2 separate regions of the Homo sapiens genome follow, and region 2 is linked to region 1. Evidence: fine-mapped expression QTL. A gene starts in region 1. The other region holds a variant in brackets. All regions are shown on one strand. Distances are between the middles of the regions.

The links. PIP is the estimated chance that this variant, and not a neighbour inherited with it, causes the effect. A credible set is the group of variants that fine-mapping cannot tell apart.
Region 2: its variant is the best candidate, but not a certain one, in a credible set for the expression of LINC00269 in prefrontal cortex (GTEx, PIP 0.76).

The regions. Positions count from the first base shown.
Region 1 is chrX:69,177,314-69,181,700 of GRCh38, reverse strand. It overlaps LINC00269 (long intergenic non-protein coding RNA 269), which reads right to left and starts at 2,144. Exons shown (of 5, transcript NR_103715.1): 1 at 2,056-2,144.
Region 2 is chrX:69,198,980-69,203,366 of GRCh38, reverse strand. It overlaps LINC00269 (long intergenic non-protein coding RNA 269), which reads right to left. Exons shown (of 5, transcript NR_103715.1): 2 at 1,735-1,890. Among named protein-coding and RNA genes, the nearest start is that of LINC00269, 22 kb to the right of the region's middle. The variant T/C (reference allele first, on the strand shown) is at 2,362.

The DNA of each region.
Region 1 (4,387 bases):
GAGTGCTGAGAGAACACCCATTCTTTGTGGGCTTCTTGAAGCCCATGAAGAAAGCACAAATTCTCCCAAACTCACTCCTCCCTCTTGACACACAGTCATCTCTTACTCCTCTCCATCCTCCACCCCCTCAAACTTCAGGATTCTAGGTCCTGCATTGCTCTTGAATCCATTGTCTTCTTTCCGTTTCATCACCAATGTTGGAATTCAGGCCTCATCATCTCTTGCCTACAAGAGTTCCTTGCTGGTCTCCCCATCTCCAACTTTGCCATCTCTGATCCATTCTTGACACCCCCAGAGTGAAGGTTCTAAAATGCCAATGTGGTCACCCCCCACCCCCAGAGACTGGCTCCCTAGGGCCCACTCCACAGGGCACACTGTGATCTGTCTTCTCCCTGTTCCCATCTCATCTGTGGCTCTTTGCCTTCCTCCTCTTACGCCCCAGTCACACATTGCTGCCTGCCTGCCAGGAGCACAGCAGGCTTCAGCTCTTTCTTTGTCCATTCGGTTCTCTCTGGCTAGAATGCCCTCTTCCTCTTTTTTTTTGCTGCCATCAAGCAGAGAGTGGACATTTGTTGGTTTGTGGCTTCCCAGCCTTCATTCCTCCCCTTTCCTTAGGCTCCAGTTTAGTGAATTGTCTCTGCCTGATTGTGGGTAATGTTGGTGAAACAATAAATCCATGCATGCCTCCTTCCATAGAAGCCAAAGGGAAGTTGCCTTCCCCCCCTCAGCCCAGTATAGCCAGGAGGCGAGCATGGGACTAAGCTTGGTGACTGGACAGTCTCATTGGACTTTGAATCTGGAATAAGCAATATAAGAATAGAGGAAACAGACTTCATTCATGTTATTGGCAACATCCTGATCAAACCATTCCTGCTTCCTATTCCTTCCCAACCCCTCCCCAAGAAGTGCCTTTGCTTATGTCGATTTCCATACCTGGTTCTCTAGCTTTTCCCTTGATTCTGTAAGCTCCCTATAGCTTACCCCTCCAACCCCATAAATTCCCTTCTCTCCTAAGTTAATCAGAGATGCTTTCTGTTGCTTGCAACCAACAATTTCTGATAGGAAACCCAGCTCAAATGTTCCTTCATCTGGTTCTGCACAAACATACTTCCCTGTACATTCCCATAGCACCCTCTACAAAGTGCAGATCACATATTGTTTTTTTTTTTTTTCTGTTCCTTCCATTAGGGTAAAAACTCATATTGGTCCCATCCTTGTGAGCTCTGGGCTCACTAGCTCATGCGTGGTCCAAAGCCAAACATTTAAGGGAACAAACATTTAAAGACTAAATTAATGGACTAGTAGCTCTACCTGCTTCCCCTCTAGGCGCTTCAGTGACTTACACAGACTCTGTCATGCCACAAAAATAGTAAAAATGCACCTGCCTCTGTCGTGAGTCTGGCTAGGAATAACGTGGGATGATTTCTGTTTGGGACACTCCTTCTGTCTGTTTCATGGAAGATGGCGTGAGGGAGGGCACGAGGGGGAAGAGAAAAGGACAGAAAGGGGGCAGGGAGGTAGCTGTTGGAGCAGCTCAGGTGGAAGATGGTGGTGAGTGGGATTAACATGGTGGCAATGGGAACAGAGTAAAGGGGCTGACTGGTGAGATTGTGAACAGAGCATTAGAATTGAATAGGCTGCTCAATTGTTTCTGGTAATTCTGAAAGCAAAAACTGGCCATTTGAGATGGCTTCCATCAGAAGGAGGTGGTGAGGGAGTTCGAGTGTGCCTGTGCATGGTGGAGCAGGGGTGGGGGGATTGGTAGGGGAGGGTGTCACACCGTCTCCAGCATCCCCCTCCTGCCAGCAGCCATGACCGTGCAGGCTGTCTTGCCTGTTTTCTAAAGAGCTTCCCCAGGCAGCAGGGGAGAGAGGAGAAGGGGGGCTGGCCACCCACGCCACTCAGCAGAGGTGAGCCAGGAGCAACGAGTCCTCAAATTCGCCCTCCCCCAAGCCACTACAGGCTGCCAGGTGCCTTGTTTTTGATGAAAGCTTTTAAAAACCCAAGTGCATGGATGGTCATGCATTCATTTTTGTTCATTTAACTAATACTCACTGAGCCTGGAGCCACGCAATGGTGAGCAAAGCCTGCCATGGACCCTGCTCTCAAGAAGCTCCCGAGCTGGCGAGCTGGCGGGGGAGAAGATGCGTAATCAGGCAATTAGGAACCAGTGTGAGCGGGAGGTAAGCATTGGTTGCTATGGGAACACGAGGAGCGGCCACAGCTGCTGCTCCTCTCTGAAGAGTGGTGGCAAGCAAAAAAGGAGGCACAAAACAGGCAGACCTGCTTGCCAGGCCCAGCTCTGCACACCCCAGCCAACTGGTCCAGGACAAAGATCTTCTGGAAGGAAAAAACCCATCAGCTCTCTGCCACACCATCTCTGCACCTAAGAAATAAGTAGGGAGAGCATGATCCAAGGACCCAATGAGATGCTGTATGTCTGTGCCTGGCCCCCAGTAGGTCTACAGCACATGGCAGCTTCTAGGGGTTTTGTTTTCAAGAAATATTTGTTGGTTAAAAGTTTCCTGGGTTATTGGACACCAGGGGTAAAGCTGTGAATGAGATAAACAAGGGTCCTGCTATCAGGGAGCTGATAGTAATTGAGGAGGAGAGACAGATACAAACATACTTATATGGTACAAGCAACTACTACTATGATCATTATCATGATGCTATGAGTGTGTTTCAGACTGGGAGCTGGCCTAGGCTAGGGGCCCAGGAAGACTTCCTGGAAGAGGGGCCATTTCAGCTAAGATCAAAAGGAAGAGAATTACCAAAGAGGTGGGGATCCTGCGTTCCAAGTATAGTGAACAGTGTATGTGAAGGTGCCAAAGCAAGAGGGAGTCTGATACATCCCAGACAAGGAAAGGAAGCCAGGGGAAACTGGAGAGGGAGAGGGGAGGCTGGAAAGATGGGCAGGGCATTAATCCACTCAAGCCTCTAGGCCGTGGTGAGGAGTTCACGTTGGATCCTAGGATGACCCCAATGCACACCACCCCCACCTCACAATGTTACTGTGACTTCCACTACTGATCAGCACATTAAAACAACTGTCAGTGCCTGAGGCACAGCCATGCTCAAGGGGCTTGACTCAGAGAAGGTTTAGAGAAGATTCTGGAATTTGAGAGCTGAGAGAGCTCTTGGAGAACATTTAGGTCCAAATTCTCACTGTGCAGATGGAAACACTGAGACCCAGAGAGGAAAAAAAAGACCTGCTCAGGGTTGCACAGCAAGCAGGGGTATCAGGCCTGTAACTAGAGCTCCGTTTAATCAGCCACACAGTGCCCCTTGCCTCTGTGGAGATCTAAAGGCAAGCTTTTTCTTACAGGTGCAATTTCCTCTGCCTCTCAGGACAACCAGGAGAGTGTTTCCAGCCCTTTGTTACCTTCTTGCACTTCCCCTAGTGTTCCTCTTTTCAAAAAGACCCCATTTCTATTAACCACAGATTCTCATTTGCTTATCCTCCACCTTTCTGTCATGATGGAGCAGCCAGAGGCAGGGCTTGGACCCCAGGCAGGGCCTAACAGAGCTCTCGTACCAGCTATTGATGTGTCTTCCTGGCTTACCCTAGCTCCTGCCCTTGCTATCCCCTGAATCATGTTCTGTGGGCAGAGCCATCTCCACTGACATGGTCACAGCACTTGCCTGCCCAGGCAGGCCTCACCACACACACACTGGTGGAGTTGACACGGTCTCAGCCATCGTCTTATACACCCTCCCATGCCCCATTGCCCTGATGGAAACAGTGAAGCAGGGGCAGCCCAGAGTTCTTGCCTGTGAATGATCTGTGTCTGGTCTTCTGACTGCCTACTCTACTCTCAGCACTGTCTGCTGGCTCCCTTCTCTCTCTGTTGAGGAATAAAGGGAGCGGGGAGACCCTATGGGAGGAGGGAGGCCAGCACTGCCTGAGCGGAACCTGCAGGGGTTGGGGTGAGAGGAACCTGCTTCTCTGCCCCTCTAGCACAGCTCTTACCCAGCTAGCCCTCCCTACAGAGTGGGCCCAGGGTCCAGGAAGGTGCTCTAGGCCTCCACCAGGGAACTCTCTACCTGGTAGGGCCTCCCTTTCAGGGAGGAACTGAGGCCACTACATTCCTCTTGCTTTAGTCCTAGAAGGAGCTGCCTTTGGAATCAACAGTCCTGAGTCCAAATCCCAGCTCTGCCACCTCTGGCTGAGTAGCCTTGGACAAATCTTTGAACATCCCTGGGCCTCAGCTTCCCTATCTGACCATAAAAATTGCTATCTCATTGGCTTGCTGTGGAGATTAAATAGGGGAGCTAAGTGCTAACTCCCTACCTGGTATATAACAATAGGTGTTTGACAAATGGTAGTCGCCTCCCCACACTCTTGGCTTGTCTCTCCAGCCACACACCCAGCAAGTTCTGCCTA
Region 2 (4,387 bases), 22 kb before region 1:
AGGGGCTCCCCAGACAGCCCTTCTGCAGTTGGCAGCACCAGGCCCAAGGCCTTCCTCCAGGCCAGAGCCCAGCCTGCTTGCCCAGCTACTCTGTCTCCTTGAGGCTGGGTCAGCACCCTCAAGGTCTCACAAGATGCCCTCAACCCACTGGCTTTCAGTTAAACACACCTAGGTTTGAATCTCTCCTCCAACACTTTCTAGGCTATGTGAAATTGACCTTACTTCTCCAAACCTAAGTTCATGCAACTGTAAATTGAAGCGGAGTGCAGGGAGGGAGCAGAGACCCCAGCAAGAATGCTCTGCACTCCTTCCTGTGCAAGCGCTGTGGCAGGGGTCATAAGTCCCTTGCCTCTTTCTTTCCCTCTATACATCCTGGTCCAGCCTAGTGGGGAGGGTACTGAAGACCTTTCTGTGGCAGCTCACATTCCGGGCACTCTCAGCAATGGAAGTGCCTCTGGTGCCTCAAACCTGTCCCTCACCCCAACCATCCCCAAAGCAATCTCGGCAGTCATTTCACAGCACAACATACAATCATATGTGTGCTGTGTTTCCCCCACATGCATGCACGAACTATACCTGCTGCTTGCCAAATGCACAGGCCAAGGGTGGAGAAGGCACCTGGGGTGCCCTTGAGCAGACCCTCCAGACCAGGGCCTCCACTAAGTGCTTGCTGTGGATCATCTTGCTAACTCTTTGCTACATCTGTAGGAAGGCTTGCCACTATCTGTTTCATGGATACAAAGACAGAAGGGAACATCCTGTTCAGAGAAGAGGACTCCACATCCCTGAGCTCAGCAGTGGTCGGGCCCACATCAGAGCTCATAGCTGCTCGTGCTGTGTTACACTGCCCTGTCTCAGGCCCCGAGGAGGAGACAGACAGGGAAACATCATTAACATGGAAGGTACCAGGAAAGGGTCATATAATGGAATACCACACAGCAGTGAAAAAGAACATGGCCACATGTAACATGTAACAACATGGGCGGCTCTCCCAGATGTGATGTTAAGTGAGGGAAATACAGCATAAAGAAAGAACATACTATGGCATGCTATATTTATATTCCATGGATATGAACTTCAAAAACATGCGGAACCAACCTACAGGGAGAGAAGTCAAAATAGTAGTTTCCCTTGGGACAGGGATTACTGATTGGGAAGAGGCACACAAGAGCCTTCTGGAGTGCTGAAAATGGTCTATATCTCGACCTAGGTGGTGGTTACAGAGGCTGATACATATGTAAGTATTCATGGAGCTGTACACTTAAGATTAGTGCACTTTAATGTATGGAAATTATGCCTCAATAGAAAAAGTATTTTTAAAAACCAAAAGTGCCAAGAGCTTCCCCCAGATCTTTGCATAACTGGCCTCTTGTCATTCAGGCCATCCCCTAAATGTCACCTCTTCAAAGAGGCCTTCCCTGGCCCCACCCCGCACCTAATTGAATTTAGCAACACTCCCCGCGTCTGTGCCTCAGTTGCTCTCTATTCTATTAACTGGTTTTCTTTTCTTTTTAGTATGTACCAATGTGCTGGAGCTGGCTTTCACTGGCTCTTCCCAACTCAGTATTCAATGACTTCACACTGCCAGCTTGAGATGAGCCATGATGGGAATGTCAGCACCACAGAAGTCAGCAGGTGCCGCAGATGCCCTCCTTTAAGCAGATCACTCAGCATTTTCCAGTACACCCTGTACACAACACTATTTCAGATCATCTTATGTATTTGTCAGCTTACCGATCTGCTGTATGTCTCCTCTACATGAAGTTTCATGAGGGCAGGGTCTATGGCTTGTCATTTTTGCCACTGTATCCCTGGTTCCTAGAACAATGCTTGTTGTATAGTAGGTATCCAATACATGCTGCTTGAATGAATAAAAGTCTGAGGGAAACACTGGAAACACAAGAGAGGAAACTGTTACCTTTGTACCTGAATACGGAATATTTGAGCTGAGGCTTCAACCATAAAAAAGAGTTTGCTAAGGAGCCAAGGGAGAAAGGACTTCCCAGGCAGAGGGAATAAAATGGAGGCATGAAAGAGCATGGGAGGTCTGGGGGAAAGCCAGCCGCCAGAGTGGCTGTATTGTAGGGTGTGTGGGGTAGGAGAGGCCTTGGGAGTGGCGCAGAAAGGTAGGCTGGGGCCACATTGTGAAGGGCCTTAGCTCCTTGAATGAAAGGCTGGATTTTCCCCTGTAGGCGATAGGGAGCCATTGAAATGTTTTAATTAAAGAAATAATCCGATCAGGTCTTTGCTGGCAAGGTACCTCTGATGGCAGCCTGGAGAGTGGATTGAAGGAGGACGGCTGGAGGTCCAGTCACCTCTCCACAGTATGCCTAGGATAGAAAGCTGGTCTTTTGAAACCAG[T/C]GGTTCTTCTCACTGTTTTTCCTGCCTGTTTCTATTCCCTCAGTCCTCAGTGAAGATGGAAAACAGCTGGCTCTTCCCTCAAAGCTCAGTGGCCCTCTAGGTCCCAGGCCTTAGTTTCCATTGGCCACATTTCTCTGTCTGGCCTAGCTCTGTGGGGGCAGCCCCTGTGGCCTTGCCAAGATGCCCAAAGGGTGAGTGCCCAGTGTGGGCACAGGAACTATCTGTGCCTTCCTAGTGTTTTGACTTAGCCAGCCCATTCCCTGTTCTGTACCTCATCCTGCTGAGTCCCAAGGCAGCAGCAGCCACTGCTATAGTTGCCGCTAGAAGAGGAAGGTTAAGGGGCCTTTGTTGTCTGTGCTGTTGCTATGCAGGAATAGCCACAGGCAGCTCTGAGGTTGGGTTGTGGTCTAGAGTGGGGTTCATGCTTGGCAGCTGAGGCAGGCCACCCCAGCCCAGGCTCCCGCTCCAGGCAGGGAGTTGTAAATTAGAACCTCCAGCCTTCTAATTTAAGGGACCAAAATAAGCCCAGGAACATTCCTGCTGGGGCCCCAGCAGCCCAGCCTTCAGGCAGCAGCTAGGCTCTGTCCTCAAGCCCTGAGTTGCAGAGGTTGGGGAGCTGGGCAGCCAAGGATGGCTAAAGCCTGGGTGACAGGACGTACAGGAGGTATGGGAGGGACTGGGTCGAGGCATTTGTCTGTGGTTCTATAATCAGTCCACTTTAGTTCAGTCTGAGTCCCTATCAAATGTTTAACATCAGGCACTGGACTAGCTTAGCCCTGGGATGACAGTGGTGAGTAATGCTAGGATTTACCCATCTGGGAGAAACCTTAAAGACCATTTGAGCCAAACTTCTCATGTTATAGATAAAAAAAACGAGGCCCAGAAAGGAAAAGACACTGACCCCAAGTCACACAGAAAGTCAGGGGGCAGAGCCAGGACTAGAATCAAGGGCTGTAGTGCAGAACTAACTCCACCCCAAGCAGACTTTGGGGAGCATCGGATAGAGCTTCAGATGGCCTGTTGGGTGTGTCCTACAGGAACCTGGAATTCAGTCAACATGCAGGAACTGTGGGAGGCCTCCCAAAGGTGAGGCCTTGGAACTTGGCCTGGGGACAGGGCAACCTAGGCATAGAGAACAGGCCACATGAAGTCACAGAGGTGGGGAATCTCACAAGCCAGAACCAGGAACGTGATGTGGTCTAAGAGTTGCATGGGTGCATGGATGTCTCTCCCTAGCTCATGTTCCAGTGGACACGTTCCCCAAGAGTACCTGCTGCCTCTCTTTCTCAAGAGGAAAGGAAGCTGAATTGTTGATGAGCATCCTTATCATCACAGCTAACATTTTTTGAGGGCTTACTATGTGTCAGGCTCTGTGCAAAGTGTTGTCTCATTTGATCCTCATAACAACCTTATGAGGTGGGGCTATTATTAACCGCCTTTTAAAGATGAGAATACTGAAGCACATAGAGGTCAAGTAGTTGGTTAAGTTGACACAGGGGATTTGTACAGAGGAAGTCTGATTCTAAGGTCTGTGCACTTAACCATCACACTATAATAGTGTTAATGATAACTGTAATAATAAGCTAGTGTCTGCTGAATATTTACTATGGGCCAACCACTGTTCAAAGGATTTCATAGGGAGTAGCTTGTTTGATCTTCCCAATGACTTTATGGGGTAGGTATTATTACTATTATTGTCATCTCTAATTTACAGATGAGAAAACTGAGGCAGAGAGAAGTAAAGAGCTAGTATTGCTTCTGCAAGACCTTGCCAAGTAGACAAGGGAGAAAGGATTTCCAAGGCAAAGGGAACAAAATGGAAGCATGAAAACAGCATGGCAGTGTCTGGGAGAGCCCAGCAGTCAGACTGTACTGTAGGGTGGGTAGGATGGGGAGAGACATTGGATGGTCCTGGAGATTGCCCCCCTGCCCACTGAAGGAGTGCTCTGCAATGGCCCTGACGAGAGGGAAAGAGAGGGTTCCCCTGGTTGCTCAGGATTTGAGAGCTGGGTTGGGAAGCCTGAAA